2 linked regions of the Homo sapiens genome follow. The protein of the gene in region 1 interacts with the protein of each later gene in a biochemical or structural test. Each region holds a gene or a part of one and is shown on either strand. Other genes may lie near its edges.

The links.
Region 2: of the proteins of TRIM25 (region 1) and MAP3K13, one has a biochemical effect on the other in vitro, tested with the Homo sapiens proteins (one study listed by BioGRID).

Annotation. Positions count from the first base shown.
Region 1 is NC_000017.11:56,896,951-56,900,769, forward strand, and holds part of TRIM25 (E3 ubiquitin/ISG15 ligase TRIM25), read right to left. Parts: intron 2,231-3,819; coding exon 2,165-2,230; intron 1-2,164.
Region 2 is NC_000003.12:185,446,345-185,450,163, reverse strand, and holds part of MAP3K13 (mitogen-activated protein kinase kinase kinase 13), read right to left. Parts: intron 2,376-3,819; coding exon 2,217-2,375; intron 265-2,216; coding exon 106-264; intron 1-105. UniProt on the Homo sapiens protein: Activates the JUN N-terminal pathway through activation of the MAP kinase kinase MAP2K7. Acts synergistically with PRDX3 to regulate the activation of NF-kappa-B in the cytosol.

The sequences.
Region 1 (3,819 bases):
AAAATTGTTTTAATTAGCCTGGCTTAGTGGCACATGCCTACAGTCCTAACTCCTCAAGAGGCTAAGGTAGGAGGATCACTTGAGCCCAGGAGTTCGAGGCTGCAATGAGTTCTGTTCGCACCACTGCACTCCAGCCTAGGCAAAAGAGCGAGACTCTGTCTCTTAAAAAATAGTAAATGCAAATTCTTGGGCCCCAAGCCAGAGCCACTGAATCATAAAGGCTGGGGGTGAGACCCAGCAATCTGTGATGTACAAGCCCTCCAGGTGAGTCCAAAGTCCACTCAAGTGGGCTAGAAGATCCCAGCTTCCTTCTTTGCCACCTTCCACAACACTGGAACAAAAAGGGGCGTTTTTGAAATCATATCCCTGCCCACCTGCAGGACACCTGACATTACAGATAAGCCCTGCTCTCTCCTATTACCCTCTCCCTCCCCCAGACCCCCATCACACCACAAAGCCCCCTTGCTACCGCTTCTCCTACTTCGAAGTCACATCACTCACAGTCGCTCACTCTCCCATTTCCTCCCCTTCTGCCACTTTCCCACCCACTCCCTGTGGACCAGCATCTTGGGAGGCCCAGGCTGTGACATCAATCTAGGGCACAGGCACCTCCCTCATCACCTACCCTTAGACATCTCTCTGCACTGGGACTACTCCATACCCCCTCCCCTATTTCCCCATTTCAGCCTAGAGGAGCCTTGATTCATTCCCGAACTTTATTCTCCAGGGTGTCATTCTGCTGTGACATGAGGACCTCACCTCACTGGGGAACACACCTGCCTGCTGGCCGGCATCCCTACCTCATTCATACTAAGGGAGGAGCTTTCAGAGGAAGGTGACTGGGGAAGGACACAGGTCAACAGTACCTTTCCACTTCCTCTTTCACTCCTCTTTTCACACAAAGTACCCTTCGAGGTTTTCCGGCCCAGCTAAGGGCTCCCTCCTCCATCTGCACCAGGCATCCCAGCCCTGACTCTGTTCCATTCGGGGACCGATACCACACTCTGCCTGCTACAGGTGACCTGAACACTAAGCACAAGCAACAACAACAAAGAGCAAGCCCTGGCTCTCTCATCCCCCCAACACCAGCAGTGTGCAGCCAGCCCTCCTGGGTTCACACCAACTTTTCAGGGAAGCAATGACAGCTAACATTTCAGTGGTATATGGACATGTCAGTGGTATATGAACATGTCAGCGGTATATGGGCATGTCAGCGGTATATGGACATCTCAGCGATATATGAACATGTCAGCGGTATATGGACATGTCAGCAGTATATGGACATCTCAGCGGTATATGGACATGTCAGCAGTATATGAACATCTCAGCGGTATATGGACATGTCAGCGGTATATGGACATCTCAGTGGTATATGGACATCTCAGTGGTATATGGACATCTCAGTGGTATATGGCTCATAAAGAGCTCTCACAATCAGTGTCCCCTCATCACTCAGAATCATCCTGTGGCCTCGATATCACTATTGTCCACATTTGCAGAACAGGACCACTCTTCTCCTCAACCCCCATGTCAATGGCAGGTGCCTGCCCAATGAGGGGGATAGTACCCCTAGGAGGGCAAAAATGGATCCTTGGGGGAGGGGGAGTAAAAAAGATTACTCTTTTTATGTGTAAAAGCACAAACATAAACAGTTATGCAGTAGATGGGTGGTATTAAAATTTCATGGGTTGTAATTAGGAAAAAAATTTTCTCAAATGGTTCTGGGGATGAGCAGGAGGAGGGTAACAGTGAGAAACCAAAAAAAAAAAAACAGTTGAGAAACATGGTAATAGCAGAAGCCCATTACAACCCAGAGACTTAACACTGCTGAGATGCCAAGGAGGTTTAGCCTCCACCCTTCCTGGACCGCCATCAGTCTCCTTGCCCAAGGCTCTGCCCAAGGACTTGGGTATAGTAAATATTTCTCAAAACAAGCCAGCCTCAGGCATCTTGCTGTTCCAGGCAGCCCAAACGTGCAATGCTGATGGACAGCGGAGCTTCTGCCACAGCCCTACAGCCCCCCGCAGTGGGGACTGCCACCAACTTCTTTCCCACTGAGGTCCAGGCCCCACAGTGACTCGGGATGGGCCGGAAGTGACTTGGCCAGAGCCTGGGGAGGCCACAGCCATGCTGTTGCCATGGAGACAGGGGTGGGGCTACTTACTGGAGACCTTCTTCACAGGGCGTGTGGATTTGTGTGTGGACGCTGGGTCATGCTCTCCAGGGTCACCTGTGTCAGAGAAGAAGGGCTCAGTGTGTGCGGCTCCTCTCACTGACCCTAGCAGCCAGCTTTGCCATGGGTCGGTGGGCAGGCAGAGGGTTTACACAGACAGCCATTTCCTCCGACCTTCCCCATCCCATCGCTTACAAGAGCTACAAACAAGGTGATCTAAGAACCAGTTTGGTGTATTCCCTTTTTTCTCTGACTTTTTAAAATGTAGCAAGGGCCAAGTCTTTTTTCCACCAGCACCCAGCTCTGTGGCCTCTGAGACTTCTCTGAGCTTTGGTTTCTTCGAGCACACAATGGGGATGACTTCACCTTGCTCATGGTTGATGTGACTCCTGAATGAGATCAAGGTCATGTAGCGGAGGCTGGGTCAACACTTGTTCCTTTCCCACTATTCTTTCTCTCCCCTCCTCCCACATACCAGCCACCTATAGCTTTGCCCCCACGCAGCACTTCCACAATGGGGCTGCACCGCCACCGATTTCAGAAGCCCTTCTGCAAGGACACTCGGCAGGCCAAGCTGAGATTCAAGCCCAATCTTGGACTACACAACAGAGATTTACTATGGGCCAGGCTCTGTGCTAGGCACTAGGGAAATAGCGTTGAAGAAAAATCAGACAGGCCAGGCACAGTGGCTCAAGCCTGTAATCCCAATGATTTGGGAGGCCAAGGCAGGAGCATCACTTGAAGCCAGGAGCTCAAGATCAGTCTGGACAACTTAGCGAGACCCTGGCTCTACAAAAAAAATTTTTTAGGCTGGGCCCGGTGGCTCACGCCTGTAATCCCAGCATTTTGGGAGGCTGAGGCAGGCAGATTACTTGAGGTCGAGAGTTCAAGACTAGCCTGACCAAAGTAGTGAAACCATGTCTCTATTAAAAATACAAAAATTAGCCAGGTGTGGTGGCACATGCCTGTAATCCCAGCTACTCAGGAGGCTGAGGCAGGAGAAATGCTTGAACCTGGGTGGCAGAGGTTGCAGTGAGCAGAGATTGGGCCATTGCACTCCAGCCTGGGTGACAGAGCGAGACTCCGTCTCAAAAAAAAAAAAATTTTTTTTTAATTAGCCGGGCATGATGGTGTGTATCTATAGTCCTAGCTAGTCGGGAGGCTGAGGCAGAGGGATCACTTAATCCCAGGAGTTTGAGGTTACAGTGAACTATAATCACGCCATTGCATTCCGGCCTGGGCGACAGAGCAAGATCCTGAATAAATAAATAAATAAGCCGCAGCCCCTGACCTCACAGAGATCACAACCTAATGAGGGAGATATACGGGGATCCCAAGGAAGAATGCGATACTACCCATGCAAGAGTCCCAAGAGGATGACAAGGACCCTGGGCCCAGTCTGAGGAGTGGGAGCAGTGGCAGGGGAGGCTGGCTATAAATGTAATGTTTTGCTGATCTTTGAAGGGTGAGAGGAGTTAATTAGTGAAGACGGTGGAGTTCAAGCCTTCTGGAGAGTGGGGAAGAGCAAACACAAAGGCCCTGTAGCAGGAAGTTTTGCATATTTGAGGAACTGAATGCAGAGAGATGCACCAGAGGAGAGTGGGGGGCGCCTTGGGGCTGGAGAGAGACCAACAGGGCTTGACCTG
Region 2 (3,819 bases), on another chromosome or scaffold:
CCCAAGATTCTCCTACTCCAAAGCTCCTATTCTTTCCACCACCAGGATATTTACTCCAAATACACATTAGAGACCTCCCTATTGTTTTAGAGACAATATTCTTACCACGTCTGTTTCATAAGGATTTTGAATCCATCAGGGCAAGTGGAAGGAACTGGAAGGTGGAGGCTGTTGCTTCCAACACCCCAGATAATGGCTGAAGAATCTACATCTTTGTAAGGGATCTCTCCTGTCAGCAGCTCCCAAAGCACCACTCCAAAAGACCTACAGTAGCGCCGGGAACATGGACAGAAGATGTTTCAGAAAGACTGATTTGTATTTTAGTTCTCTATTAATTGAAATCAAATTAGTACATATACCCAGTTTTAAAATTCTAATACTGCTATAAGAAAAACAGAAACATCTGGGACAACTCTGAAAAAAAAAAAAAAATCTATGTGGGGTAATCAACACTACCAGAAATTAAAACCTGAATAATTAACTCCCGTGTGTGAACAGATCACCAGCATAATGGACTGGACAAGAAATCCAGAAATAAACCAAATACATTTAGGAATTGAATGTATGATAGAAGTGACATCAAAAACCAGTGGGGAAAAATTGATTAGTTAATAAATGTTGTTGGAACAGCTAGGAAAAAAATTAAATCTATAACTCACCATAAATCAAGATAAATTTCACATGAATCAAAGATTTAAATAGAAAAATGAAACCATAAAAATCTTCTAAAAAATAAGGAGTTAAAAAATTATCTAGGAGTGTTAAAAACTTTTTTTTTTTTTTTTTTTTTTTAGACAGCATCTTGCTCTGTCACCTAGGCTGGAATGCAGTGGTGCGATCTTGGCTCACTGCAACCTCCACCTCCTGGGTTCAAGCGATTCTGCTGCCTGAGCCTCCCAAGTAGCTGGGATTACAAGTGCGTGCCACCACGCCTGGCTAATTTTTTGTATTTTTAGTGGAGATGGGATTTCACCATGTTGGCCAGGCTGGTCTCGAACTCCTGACCTCAAGTGATCCACCCGCCTTGGCCTCCCAAAGTGCTGGAATTACAGGTGTGAGCCACTGCGCCTGGCTTTTAAAGACTTTTTAAACCATGAAATCTAAAAGCCATAAAAGGAGAAATTGAGAAATTAAACTGTATTTTCAAAATCTGACACTGAAAAAAATACCATAAGCAAAATAACAAAATGTGAAGTATCTACAATTTACACAAAATGTGAATCTCCTTAATACATAAAATACTCTGATAAATTATGAGTAAAAATCAGAAAGCTGAGCAAAGATTATGAGTCATTCACAAATAAGCAAATACGATGGCTGTAACACATATGAACAAAAGTACAGGCTCACTTATCCTAAGAGGAATGCACCCAAGATACCGTTTTTTTACCTATATGATTGGCAAAAATCCAAGAGTTTAGCACATTTTGTTGGTGAGACTGAGAAAACACTCTTACATATTTCTGGTGGGAACATCAATTAGTAATCCCTAAGGAGGGTACTTTAGTAATGATTATCTAAATTACGAATGACCCCACATTTCTACTTTTTCCTATTTGCTCTGGTATTACATGCAATTTTGACATGTGCTATTATTTTGGTTTTAAGCCTAGAAGTTACTAGTTGCCAATTTTAAGGGTAAAAGAAAAGCTATTACAGGGAAAAATACTGTTAATAGAAAAGACTTATAACCTCAGAGGAAAGGTTACAGAGATTTTTTTTTAAAGCATAGCCTATAGAGGCTGTTCAATAAAAGGGCAAAACAACCTCCTACATCTCAAACATGTCTAGAGAACATAATTGTATCATAGCAAGGTACATTATTGATATGTGTAATGATGACCTGAGTCATTGAGATTAGGTAAGCTCTTGTACTTTACTCAAGAAGGTGAGAACTATGTAACACATTTCAGAAAGACTTCTATACTAAATGATCATTTGAAGTAAACTTTCAGTTTCCTAGAAAGTTCAGCATATTCTCTGAGGTCCCCCAAACTGGTGACTTACTGAGTAGATAGCCACCCTAATTCCCCCTAATCCTTCTCCCCATATATCACCATACTGGGAAGTACCTCAGAAAATATGAGGCTGAAATCAACCAAAAGTGAGCAACACTGAAGAATATTCTGGAAAAGTAAGTGCTGAAGGAAGACAGTGCTAATAGGGCGAAAGTGGGAAAAGGCTTTTTAGTTGGCACAACTGGTGGCGCCACTCACCATATATCAACTTTTTCAGAGACAGGTTCATTCCGTATCACCTCTGGCGCCATCCATGCGACCGTGCCAGCAAATGACATCTTGGTACTTTTGTCACTGAGTTCCTTAGATGTACCAAAATCTGAAATTTTTACCGCATCTGTGTGGGTCACTAAAACACTTTAAAAAGAAATAAAAAGAAAACATCTGGATCATTAGTACTAACGAAAACCATGATTCTAAATGGCTGAAACTGAAGACTTTATCTGCTACTTCCTATCTTGTAGCATTCAGCTTGCAGTTTCCAATGTCACTGGGGCATTGGCTATACACTAGAAATAGCATCATTCATACTTGTGAGGCAGTTTAGCGTAATGGGCTTTTAACACCTAGTCTTATTCTGCCTCTTCTACTTGCTGTGTGACCTTTGCCAAGTTATTTAACTCTTTTTTTTTTTTTTTTTTTTTTTTTTTTGAGACAGAGTTTCACTCTTGCCGCCCAGGCTGGAGTGCAATGGCACGATCTCAGCTGACTGCAACCTCTGCCTCCCGGGTTCAAGGGATTTTCTCCTTGCCCCAGCCTCCCAAGTAGCTGCAATTACAGGCACCTGCCACCATGCCCAGCTAATTTTTGTATTTTTAGTAGAGATGGGGTTTCTCCATGTTGGCCAGGCTGGTCTCGAACTCCTGACCTCAGGTGATCGACCCATCTCAGCCTCCCAAAGTGCTGCGATTACAGGCATGAGCCACTGCACCCGGCCTTACTTAACTCTTCTAAGCCAGTTTTCTCATGTGTAGGATGGAGACTCTTCAGGTCTTATTCACAAATTGAAAATGCAAAAAGTTCTCAACCAGTTTATATTTTTTTCACATGTATAAGGCAAACTCACTTTCTTCATCCCATTTTGTGTGAACAATAGGTTTTGCTGCAGATTTGTTAATGTGGTTGATTTTAGGATGCTGCTCCAGACCTCGCTGGATGTCTAAGGTAGTGCACTACCTTTCTGAAAATATCTTGCTTCAAGAGTTTTGGATAAGGGATGATAGACCTGTAATAACAATCTCACTGAATTTTCATTTGAATTAAATGAGGTAAGATACATAAGGCACCGTTATCAATAAATATTGGTTTCCATCCTTGCTGGCTTTAGCCAGGCCACTAAAAAGAGTACTTCTTTTAAAACACTGTTTAAATGATAGCCAACTAATATCATGAATGAGACCATGATGTTTGGGATTCATTACATTAAAAGGCTAATATATATGCTGGGATTTCACTAGTGCTGATAAGGAAAAGCAGAAATAAATCCAAGCTTAAGTAAATTCCACACCAGTCCTGTTTTACTTGTCATAGTAGTTATCTGAAAATGTGGCCTGAGGCAAAGTGCTCTCTGCCAGCCTTGAAGATGAATACAATCCGGTACCAAATTGACAGCTTCACATTAGATCGAATTCACTTGCAATAACCTGTTCAGAACTTTAGAAAATTAAAGACTTAGGGTTTCAGAGGCTTTAATGATCTAGGGACCTATGTTTAATGATGAGAGGCTTACGAGCGTGGTGGCGGGCGCTTGTAGTCCCAGCCACTCGGGAGGCTGAGGCAGGAGAATGGCGTGAACCCGGGA